Homo sapiens: one gene and its partners. The protein of the gene in region 1 purifies or fractionates together with the protein of each later gene. This does not show direct contact. Each region holds a gene or a part of one and is shown on either strand. Other genes may lie near its edges.

The links.
Region 2: the proteins of PIK3AP1 (region 1) and TLR2 purify together in Homo sapiens (affinity purification with western blotting, with the first as the bait; one study listed by BioGRID). This does not show direct contact.
Region 3: the proteins of PIK3AP1 (region 1) and SCCPDH purify together in Homo sapiens (co-immunoprecipitation; one large-scale study listed by IntAct). This does not show direct contact.

What each region holds. Positions count from the first base shown.
Region 1 is NC_000010.11:96,717,678-96,722,006, forward strand, and holds the start of PIK3AP1 (phosphoinositide 3-kinase adapter protein 1), read right to left. Parts: upstream 2,838-4,329; 5' UTR 2,718-2,837; coding exon 2,705-2,717; intron 1,017-2,704; exon of another isoform or gene 936-1,016; intron 1-935. UniProt on the Homo sapiens protein: Signaling adapter that contributes to B-cell development by linking B-cell receptor (BCR) signaling to the phosphoinositide 3-kinase (PI3K)-Akt signaling pathway.
Region 2 is NC_000004.12:153,690,636-153,694,284, reverse strand, and holds part of TLR2 (toll-like receptor 2 precursor), read right to left. Parts: intron 1-3,649. UniProt on the Homo sapiens protein: Cooperates with LY96 to mediate the innate immune response to bacterial lipoproteins and other microbial cell wall components. Cooperates with TLR1 or TLR6 to mediate the innate immune response to bacterial lipoproteins or lipopeptides.
Region 3 is NC_000001.11:246,727,356-246,731,004, reverse strand, and holds part of SCCPDH (saccharopine dehydrogenase-like oxidoreductase), read right to left. Parts: intron 1-3,649.

The DNA of each region.
Region 1 (4,329 bases):
ATACACAGAGGAGAGAGTACTAGTCTTTCTTCACCCAGCCACAGACTTGGCCACTTGGGAAAGTCACTCACGGATCCTCTCTTTCCTCTCTCTCACGTGTAAATACACAAGATGCCATCAGGGGCCTAGAGAATTTTGTGGAATAGGCCAAGTCCATTTCATTTTATCTTCCTACCCAAGGTCCTTTCAAAGACAGGGAGCCTAACTTCTCCTGGATTTCAACAAGCAGACATCTTTCAGAAAACAATATAGACTAATGCTTCCCCTTCAGTGGAAGGGAATTTAAGAATTAGGCCATAAAAAGGAACGAAGTACTGATATAAGCTACAGTGGGATGAACTTTGAAAATATTATGCTGTACAAAGGAAGCCAGTCACCAAAGACCACATACTATGTGATTCCATTCATATACAAGCCCAGAGTAGAGAAATCTATAGAGGCAAAGTAGATCTTAGGGCTGGGAGAGGAGAGGAGAATAAAAGGTTGATACCTAAAGCATACAAGGTTTCTTTCTGAGGTGATGAAAATGTCCCAAAATTGACTGTGGTGATGGCTACACATATCTGTAAAGATACTAAAAACCACTGAATTGTATGCTTTAAATGGATGAATTGTATGGCATGTGAATTATATCACAATAAAGCTGCTTTTAAAAGAAAAGAAGAACATACAGAAGGGTGGCTGGATGACTCCAAAGCCCACAGCACCTTGGCGAGCGGCATTGCTCTCACCACTGTGATCTTCCCCCATGGGTCCTTGTACTTCCAAACCTCAGGGAACCCGAGGGACTCCAGAGACCCAACTCTCAATTACAGCACCTGGAGTGGTGTCTCGCCACAGAAGACGCAGACAGCAAGACAGTTTGACAGCTCTAACCATTACAAACACCTGCAGAAGCTGCTACAGAGCCCATAAATAGCCCCAGGTTTGCCCACCGGACTAGGGTCCCCCTCTGAACTGGAGCTCGCCTTCCTAGCTCCTTCGGCTGTGTCCACTGGAGAGAGGTACACAGGACGCTGGAAAAGAGGAAAAGAGAGGCCATTTTCTCAGACTCTTCCACCCAAAGGCCCTCCCAGTTTGCGGTTTCCTGGACTCAGCAGCCCAGGGCCTGTTCCTGACCATGGAAGGAGGAGGCGGCTTCACTGGTTTATTATCTGGCCTCATCTCCCTCTCCCCCACAGCCCACCTACTCCAGCCACTCTGGCCTACTCCCTTTCCTTTAACGCACCACATACACTCATTGCTTGGAGCACTCTTCCCCAAAGAGCCTCCTCCCCCTGGAAATCTTGGCTCAAATGTGCCTTTCTCCACCCTGGCCACCTCATTTGAAAATCCTAACCCCAGTCTCCCTCACCCTTCTTTATCGTTTTCCCATAACACATGTCATACCAGAGATTTTCCTTATTAAGTGTATATTACCTGCTATTACTAGGCCTCCTTATTCACAACACAGCTTCTTTTAGCCTCCAGAGCCCAGCTGGAGAGCCAGGAGGCTGTGATTAACTACCTTCCCATCCCCTTTAATGAGCCTGTAGTACATGGAACAATCACTCCTGGCCTTTTCTACCTCTGCTTCCGAAGCACCCTTACCAGACCCTCAGAGGATCTGGGGAGAGCTGGCTCTTCATTCCAGTGTTTGCTCACCTCCTGTAAGAACAGTGCCTTCTCCTGGCCACCTAGATTTTCTTTTTCAAGGGGCACCTGCAACCTGTTTTCACAGGTTATCCCTACTAAAACATCATAAAGTGGGCTGGGAAAATACAAGTAAACCCATTTGTAAACACTGTAACTCTACCTCCTCTCATCTAGTAATTCCTTGTTTACTTATTGCTTTCCTCTACAGGACCATAAACTCCTGGAGAGCAGAGACTAGGTGTTTCCTGCCCACCATGGAGAACATATTAGGTGCACAGTATCCATTGGAGTGCAATAGTAAGGACTCATTAATTGTCTCCGTTATCATCATTATGTGGCTTGTCCTGGATCTCCGTCAGTGAGCGACTTGCCAAGTGTGTACACCCATGAACCAGAAGGCAACCCAAGACCAGCCAGAAAAGACGCTTGGCACCCTTTGATGAGTACATTTACCCAGTGACCGCCAACTCTCCCCATTCCCCAAAGTTCTGCAAAGGACGCAGGAAAAGTAAAGTTCAAGGAATAGTGTTCCTAGATCCCTAGCAAAGTTCTAGACCCAAAACACAAAGCCTGGGAGGGGTGGAGGAACGGGGCTTGGGGAACTGTCCCAAGGGCCTCCCCGGCTGATCTCTCCGCACCACCTAGGACTGCCTGAGCGCCCCCTGTGGGTCCACGGAGCCCAGGAGACGCGTTTGGCCCTGTAGACCATCCACATCGCCCGCCCTCCGCTTCTCTCAACTCGCCTCTCGCTTCAGAGTCGGAGGGACAGGGGAAGCGACGCTCAGACACTCCTAGGGCCAGAGGTGGAGGGAGCGAAGGAGACCCTGAAGAAGTGGGAGGGGGTCGGGCCAGGCAGGGGCTGAAGAGAATCGCGCCACAGGCTGGGACGGGAAACGTGGGAAAGTTGGAGTGGGAAGTTTGCGACAGGGAACATAGAAAAGAGCAGAAAGAGGGCAAGATCCCCGCACAGAGGACGCAAACAGAAGCAAGCGGGGGAGCGCGCCTCAAGGGATGCGGGGTACGAGAGAGGGGCCGGGAGCCCGGGGACCCGCGGCGCCTGCCTACCCACCTGAGGCTGCCATGCCGCGGGGCGCCGCTCACATCCCTGGCTCGCTGCGTGCCCGGGGCCGGGACCGGGGCCGGCGGCGTCCTGGCTCGGGCTGGAGGGGCGCCGGGCTCCGCGCGGGACCGGCCGCCGCTCTGGCGCTTCCTCCCTCAGGGCAGCCCGGCCTCGCCACGAGGGCGTGTCCACAGAGTCCGCCCCGCCTGCGGGACTCGGCCCGCGGCACCTGCACCCGCGGCCGTTGGGGAGGGGAAGTGAGAACCCCATGCCGGCCGCCGGCCAGCTCCCCCCACGGCCCCCTGCTCAGGGGCAGCGAGAAGGCGGGGGCTTCGCGCCACGTGCGCCCCACTCCTCGGGAAACCAGCCCTGATCTGCCACCAAAGGGCAGCCCGAGGTGGAGGGGGTGTGGGGAGGAGGCGGAGGGGGAGAGTGTGGGGCTGCCAGGCCTCTGGGAGACAGGGCGGGGGTGTGTGTGTGTGTGAGCACCAGCTGTCCAAGCCACCTCCTCATCGCCTGGGGCTTTGTCCCTAAGCCCCTGCTGCCCCAGCAGGAAAGGGGAGGGGACAGGAAGGGGAAGAGGAGGAGGGCTGGGCACCTGGCCCTGGGTGCTCGGCGTTGCCCTTGAGTGCCCTCCTGTGATCTTTCTGCCGTTCCTTGGATCTGGTCTCCTGATGGCACATGAACATTAATTATAATGTCACATGATAAATGTCTAATAGAGTTTCTCTGCCATTCATTTCCTGTGTTCCTGTCTGCTGGGCGCTGCGTTTAGCACCTTACACACATTATCGCATTGCATCCTCACAGCAACCTTCTGAGGTAGCACCTATCACTGTCTTTACATTGGAGCCAAAGAAACAAGCCAAATACCTTGCTCAGGCTTCCACAGAGAACAAAAGCTCCCGGAGGTTCAGTACCAAGCCAGTCTGCTTCCAGAGCTAGAACTCTTGCTTAACCCTTGCCTTCACCTGCCCTCTTCTTGGACTCCTCCCTTTGCCTGCTGCCGAAATTCAACTGAATAGCACATCCCCTTGGAGTTCTCAACAATCCAGGGGCCAGAAGATGGACCCAGAGAGCAGAGATGAGGCAAGGTTAGGGCTGAAGTCCAGGTGGAAATAAAATGAAATGGATTTAAGAACGGGAATATCAGGATGAGGCCGTGCATTCATTTTCTTCTGTTGCCATAATAAATTACTACAAATTTAGTGGCTTAAAACAACACCAACTTATCATTTTACAGTTCTGTAGCTCAGAAGTGTGACATGAGTCTCCATCGGCTAAAATCAAGGTGGTGGCTGGGCTGGGTTTCTTTCTGCCAAATAGAAGGGAATCAATTTCCTTGGCTCTTTCAGCTTCTAGAAGCCATCCACATTCCTTGGCTCATGGCCTCCTTGTTCTATCTTCAAAGCCAGATGGCCCTGCTTCTGTCATCATATCCCTTTCTCTGACTCTCTTCTGTCTCCCTCTTCCAGTTTTAAGGATCCTAGTGGCCGGGCGCGGTGGCTCACGCCTGTAATCCCAGCACTTTGGGAGGCCGAGGCGGGCGGATCACGAGGTCAGGAGATCGAGACCATCCCAGCTAAAACGGTGAAACCCCGTCGCTACTAAAAATACAAAAAATTAGCCGGGCG
Region 2 (3,649 bases), on another chromosome or scaffold:
CACCTGGTCCACCCAAGATGGAAAACCACTTAAGGCATTCCTAAGCCACAAACAATAGCATGAGCGATCTGTGCCTTAAGGACGTGTTCCTGCTGCAGATATCTAGCCAGAGCCCATCGCTTTGTTTTGGCCCATCCCTTTGTTTCCTGTAAGGAATACTTTTAGTTAATCTATAATCTACAGAAATAATGCTTATCACCGGCTTGCTGTCAATAAATACGTGGGTAAATCTCTGTTCAGGGCTCTCAGCTCTGAAGGCTGTGAATCCCCTGATTTCCCACTCCACACTCTATGTTTCTGTGTGTGTGTCTTTAATTCCTCTAGCACTGCTGGGTTAGGGTCTCCACGACCGAGCTGGTCTCGGCAAGTGGCGCCCAACGTGGGGACTCAAACCCAGGATGAAGGCTCGCTGGAGCAATGGTTGGAAAACGTGGAACAAAGCTGGAGGATACCCGAGTACTCTTAAGCAATCCCCATGGTGAGTAAGAAGGGGAGCTCGGAAGCATCAGGGTAACAATGGGCAAGTGTGGGCTCTAGCTCATTCCACCTTGGAACCTTTTCACACTAAAGATGAGGAGGAAGGAAAGTATAATGAAGTAACAGAAGAGGTGACAGAGCAGGTTTGTTTGCCAGCTAAAGCTAAAGTGGCAAAGGAGGGAGAGGTTTGTCCCTACCCTTCTGCACCCCCTCATTATTTCGAAGCAAAAGAGTAGCCTGATCCTCCAGATCTTTCTTTTCCAGAGGACACTGGGCAAAAAGTAGTCGCCCCAGTGACTGAGCAGCACCTCGAGCGACCACTCTCAGTTCTATTCAGCCAGGAATTCAGCAAGTTAGAAGAGAGGGTGATATAGAGGCTTAGCAGTTCCCTGTTAGAATATACCCCGTAGATCAACAGGGAAATATTATAGCTACATTTGAGCCTTTTCCTTTTAAATTACTCAAAGAATTTAAACAAGCTATTAATCCATATGGAACAGGTTCTCCTTTTGTAATGGGACTGTTAAAGAAGGTTGCTGTCTCCAGTCAGATGATGCCAGCGGGGATGGTAGGATTACTTCTAGGTAGGTCTAGTTTAAATTTAAAAGGCGTGCAAGTACAAACAGGAGTCATTGATTCAGATTACAAAGGGGAAATTCAAATTGTTATATCTACTTCTGTTCCCTGGAAAGCAGAGCCAGGAGAGCATATAGCACAGCTCCTGATTATGCCATATGTGGAAATGGGGAAAAGTGAAATTAAATGAACAGGAAGATTTGGAAGCACAAATAAACAAGGCAAAGCAGCTTATTGGGTGAATCAAATTACTGATAAACATCCTACTGGTGAAATAACTATTCAGGGAAAGAAATTTAAAAGTTTGGTAGATACAGGAGCGGACATTTCAATCATTTCTGTACAGCACTGGCCATCTGCATGGTCAATTCAACCTGCTCAATTTAACATAGTTGGAGTTGGTAAAGCCCTTAAAGTATATCAAAGTAGTTATATTTTGCATTGTGAAGGGCCCAATGGACAACCTGGGACTATACAAAAAATTATAACTTCTGTACCTATAAATTTATAGGGAAGAGATTTATTACAACAATGGGGATCACAAGTTCTAATTCCAGAATAATTATACAGCCCTCAAAGTCAACATATGATGCATGAAATGGGGTATGTCCCTGGTATGGGACTAGGAAAAAATTTGCAAGCTTTGAAGGAAATGCTTCAAGCGGAAAGACAAAGTTCCCACCAAGGTTTAGGATATCATTTTTGATGGTGGCCATTGTTAAGCCTCCAGAACCTATATACCTTTAAAATGGTTAACAGATAAGCCAATTTGGATAGCACAATGGCTGCTGAGTAAAGAGAAACTGGAGGCTTTAGAGGACTTAGTTGCTGAACAATTAGAAAAAGGACACATAGCTCAACATTTTCCCCTTGGAATTCTCCAGTTTTTGTAATTAAGAAAAAATCAGGTAAATGCAGAATGTTAACTGACTTAAGAGCCATTAATTCAGTTATACAACCTATGGGGACATTGCAGCCGGGACTGCCTTCTTCTGCTATGATTCCAAAAAATTGGCCTTTAATAGTCATAAATTTAAAAGACTGTTTCTTTACTATCCCCTTAGCTGAGCAAGGCTGTGAACTGTTTGCATTTACAATTCCTGCAGTAAAAAACCTGCAGCATACTAAAGCATTTGTATTGGAAAGTGTTGCTACAAGGCATGTGAAACAGTTCAAAAATTTGCCAGACTTATGAAGGGCAAGCAATTGAACCTACTCGTAAAAAATTTTCACAGTGTTACATTATTCATTATATGGATAATATACTTTGTGCTGCCCCCACTCAAGAAATATTACTCCAATGTTATGATCACTTGCAAAACTCGATTTCTCATGCCAGTTTAATTATATAGCTCCTGACAAAATTCAGACTACTACTCCTTACTCCTACTTGGGGACCTTAGTAAATGACACTACCATTGTGCCACAGAAAGTAACTATACGTAGGGATCAATTGAAAACATTAAATGACTTTCAAAAATTACTAGGGGACATTAATCGGATATGACCTGCTCTAGGCATTCCCACCTATGCCCTGAGTAATCTATTTTCTATCCTTAGAGGAGATCCTAGTCTCATTAGCCCTCAGCAATTAACAAAAGAAGCTGAGGCAGAGCTGCAGCTAATCAAAAAGCAAATCCATAAATCTCAAATAAATAGAATAGATCCAAAAAAGACCCTAGATTTGCTAATTTTTCCAACTCAGCATTCACTTACTGGTGTTATTGTATAAGAGCAAGACTTTGTACAGTGGCTTTTTCTTCCACATACTAATTCACAGACTCTAACTCCTTATTTGGATCAAATGGCTACGATGATAAGAAATGGGAGAATTCGGATTGTTAAATTACATGGATATGATCCTGGAAAAATTATTGTCCCTCTCACAAAGGCACAAATACAGCAAGCTTCTATAAATAGTCTTACTTGGCAAACCCATTTAGCTGACTTTGTGGGTATTCTTGATAATCATTTTCCTAAAATGAAATTATTTCAATTTTTGAAATTAACTAATTGGATTCTCCCCAAAATAACTAAATTTAAACCAACTGAAGGTGCTGAGAATGTTTTTACAGATGGGTCTTGTAATGGTAAAGCCTCTTATTCTGGATCAAAAGGTAAAGTTTTTCACACGCCCTATACTTCAGCTCAAAAAGTGGAGCTTTAGCTGTAATTGAGGTATTGACTGCTTTTGATATGCCTATTAATGTGATTTCTGATTCTTCCTATGTGGTTCATTCCATACAATTAATTGAAAATGCTCAGTTATGACTTCATACAGATGAACAACTGATGACTTTATTTACCCAATTGCAAACAGCATTTAGGAGTAGAATGCACCCTTTTTACATCACTCACATTAGGGCTCATACACCTCTTCCAGGACCTTTAACTGAAGGGAATCAAATGGCTGATCGCCTAGTTGCTACTGCAATATCTAATGCTAGACACTTTCACAATTTAACCCATGTTAATGCCTCTGGTCTCAAATGCAGATATAACAGTACCTGGAAAGAAGCTAAAGCTATTATCCAGTGATGCCCAACTTGCCAAATGGTGCATTCCTCATCTTTAACAGGAGGAGTTAATCCTCGAG
Region 3 (3,649 bases), on another chromosome or scaffold:
CACTGTAACCTCCGCCTCCCGGATTCAAGTGATTCTCTTGCGTCAGCCTCCCGAGTAGCTGCAATTACAAGTGTGTACCACCATGCCCAGCTAATTTTTTGTATTTTTAGTAGAGACAGGGTTTCACCATGTTGGCCAGGCTGGTCTCAAACTCCCGACCTCAAGTGATCTGCCCACCTCAGCCTCCCAGAGGTTTGGGATTCCAGGCATGACCCACCGCGCCTGGCCCTCAAAGTTCCATCTTCTAACCCAGTGGTCTCCCAAGTAGTCTTCCCCTAAGGGAAGCGCAGAATGATCCACTGAGGGTGGAAGTAAATATCAGAACTTTTATCCATGTTAATGTTTACAAAAACATGACGTTCCGTTAACGGTTACTATATGGACTGACTACGAGACATTCCCTGGGCCATGTTAAGTGGTCATGTGTTGAAGACAGGACACAGCAGGTATCCTGATGGGGTTGTGGGAAAGTTTCCATCACACAGAGAGGGCCTCAGCACCACTCTTCATTCATTCAGTCGTTTTCACTTTACTGCAACCTAATGCCTGAATGAGGTTATTGAGGTTCTAAAGCTTAAACGCTGAGGCCTCAAGCATTTAGAGTGGGGAGGACAAAGACGCAGTGGAGGAGACGAGGACTTCCAGGGTGAAGCTGGTGGACAGGAGGAAAACTACGAGAAGATGACAACGTAGAAGCTGAGCAAAGAAAGGAGAAAGTGGTCAGCTGGATCGAATGCTGCAAGCTTTCAGATGAAGACTGGATTTGACAGGGTGGGACTTTAGCAGAGTAGTTTCATTGGAGGAGGGAGGAAAACAAAAGCCCAATAGGAGGCGTTTAAGATAGAGTAGGAGGTGAAGAAGCAGAGATAGTGAGTCATGAGAATTCTTCCAAGGAGGCTGCTAAAAAGGGGGCACAAAAAGTAGAGTAGTTGGAAGGGTATGTGGAATCAAGCAGCTTTTTTTAAAATATGGGAGATATCACATATTTAAATGCTGATTGAAATAATCCAGTAAAGAGGAGAAATTTGATAACAAGATAATGTGTAATTGTAAACATAAAGTGTTACAGGAAGTCAGGGACCCCGAACAGAGGGACCAGCTGAAGCCACGGCAGAAGAACATAAACTGTGAAGATTTCATGGACATTTATTAGTTCCCCAAATTAATACTTTTATAATTTCTTACACCTGTCTTTACTGCAATCTCTGGACATAAATTGTGAAGATTTCATGGACATTTATCACTTCCCCAATCAATACTGTTATAATTTCCTATGCCTGTCTTTAATCTCTTAATCCTGTCATCTTTGTAAGCTGAGGATGTATGTTGCCTCAGGACCCTGTGATGATTGAGTTATCCGTACAAACTGTAAAACATGTGTCTTTGAACAATATGAAATCTGGGCATCCTAAAAAAGGAAGAGGATAACAGCAATTTTCAGGGAACAAGGGAGATAACCATAATGTCTGACTGCCTGCGCGACTGGGCAGAAGAGAGTCATATTTCTCTTCTTGCAGAAAGCGAATAGGAGAAATATCACTGAATTCTTTTCCCAGCAAGGAATAACCCTGGGAAAGGAATGCATTCCCAGGGGGAGGTCTCTAAAATGGCCGCTCTGGGAGTGTCTGTCTTATGCAGTTGAAGATAAGGGATGAAATACACCCTGGTCTCCTGCAGCACCCTCAGGCTTGCTAGGATTAGGAAATTCCAGTCTGGCAAATTCTAGTCAAACTGGTTGTCTGCTCTCGTACCCTGTTTCCTGTTAAGATGTTTATCAATGACAGTGCGTGCCCAGCGGGACATGGAACCTCATCAGTAATTCTAATTTTGCCCTGGCCTTGTGATCTTGCTCTGCCATTTGCATTGTGATACCGTATTGCCTTTTGAAGCATGTGATCTCTGTGACCCACTCCCTATTTGTACACTCCCTCCCCTTTTGAAATCCCTAATAAAAACTTGCTGGTTTTGCAGCTCAAGGGGCACCACGGAACCTGTCAACAAGTGATGTCACCCCCAGAGGCCCAGCTGTAAAATTTCTCTTTGTACTCTTTCTCTTTATTTCTCAGACTGGCTGACACTTAGGGAAAATAGAAAAGAACCTATGTTGAAATACTGGGGGCTGGTTCCCCCGATAATAAAGTCTTTGAAAACTGTGCCCAATAGGAAGAGGACCAGTTTTTCCTTGTAACAAGAGATATGGCAGACTACAGGGTATGATGCAGATTGGCAGACAGGTAGGTAGGTAGATAGATCTGGTGGTAGGAAGATGAAGAAAGAAATTCTGTTATTAACCAGCTTCTATTTTCATAGTTAAAAAAAAAGAAAAATAAAATCAGATAAGAACAAGGAAAGAGAGACGGGATACTAAAAGTTCAAGGAAAACAAGGTTGTGAGCTGCTTCAGAGAGCAGGAGAGAGAATTCCTGAGGGAAATAGAGCAGAGCTGCCGGAGGTGCTAAGCACCACACAACGTTTGTAAACACATATTTGAAGTGTGACCAGTTAGCAGGGGGATACATTTTTCTCCAGCCACACTGTGTTACTCATGTTCAGGTGAAGAGCAGGCAGAGAATAACCAGGGCTGGGATTTTTCCAGAGTACTGAGGAGAAAAAGGCAAGGGAGATAGATGAGGGCGTCCATTATAGAGTGCAGCAGTGGACCTCATGGATGGAATCTAAGCTAGTTAAGAATGAGATGAATCTAAATCAACAACACTTCTATTTAATAGCAATTCAAAAACCCTTTTGCTCTCAATTAAAAATTATTAATATTTTAGATATTTAATTTTTAAACATCTTGCCAACTGTGATGGCTTCTTCAGATCACTAAATGTCACCAACATTCACCTTGTTACACAGGCCAAAAGTCTGATGGCCTGTGACTTGATGACTTTTTCACAGTACAACAGCAAAAGCCGTTCTCCTTTGAAAATATACTCTGGACCTAACTACTTCTCAGCACCACTACGACCCCAGGGCTTGTGCTTGCACCATTCCATTGCTCATCCTTTGTTATCTACTTTTCCACTCAGAAGCCAAAGAACTTCCAATTTAAATCAGCTGAAGCCCTTCCTTTCAACCATTCAACGCCTCTTGGTCACACCTGGAAAAAAAATCCACATCCTGGCCATGGCCCGTAAGATCCCACATGACCCAGCTCCCGGGTTGCTCTCTGATCCACTCTCCACCTCTCTGCCATGCCCAGCCACACTGGCCTCTGTCACACTCTTCAGTCTTGCCAAGCACACTGGCATCTCAGGACCTTTGTGCCTGCTGTCCCTGGAAAAGTCTCTCCTCAAAAGGTTCATGCAATTTGCTCTCATTTCATTCAGATCTTGGCTCAAATGTCAATTCCTCACAGAAACCTTCCCTGACCATCCATCTAAAAACACCAATATGCCAGGACCTTTTCTCCTTTCTTGGCTTCACTTTTCTTCAAAGCACTTTTCATTACCTCCTATTACAATCCTATTTTTCTGTCTTCCCCAAGAACGTAATGTCCACGAGGGATTTTCTGTTTTGTTCACCATTGTGTCCCAGGTGCCTACAATAGTGCATTTCACATGTGGTAAGCATCAATAAATATTTATTCAATAAATGAGTCGTTTTTTAGTCTTCTTTTTGTGCATTTAAAAAATATATTTACCCAG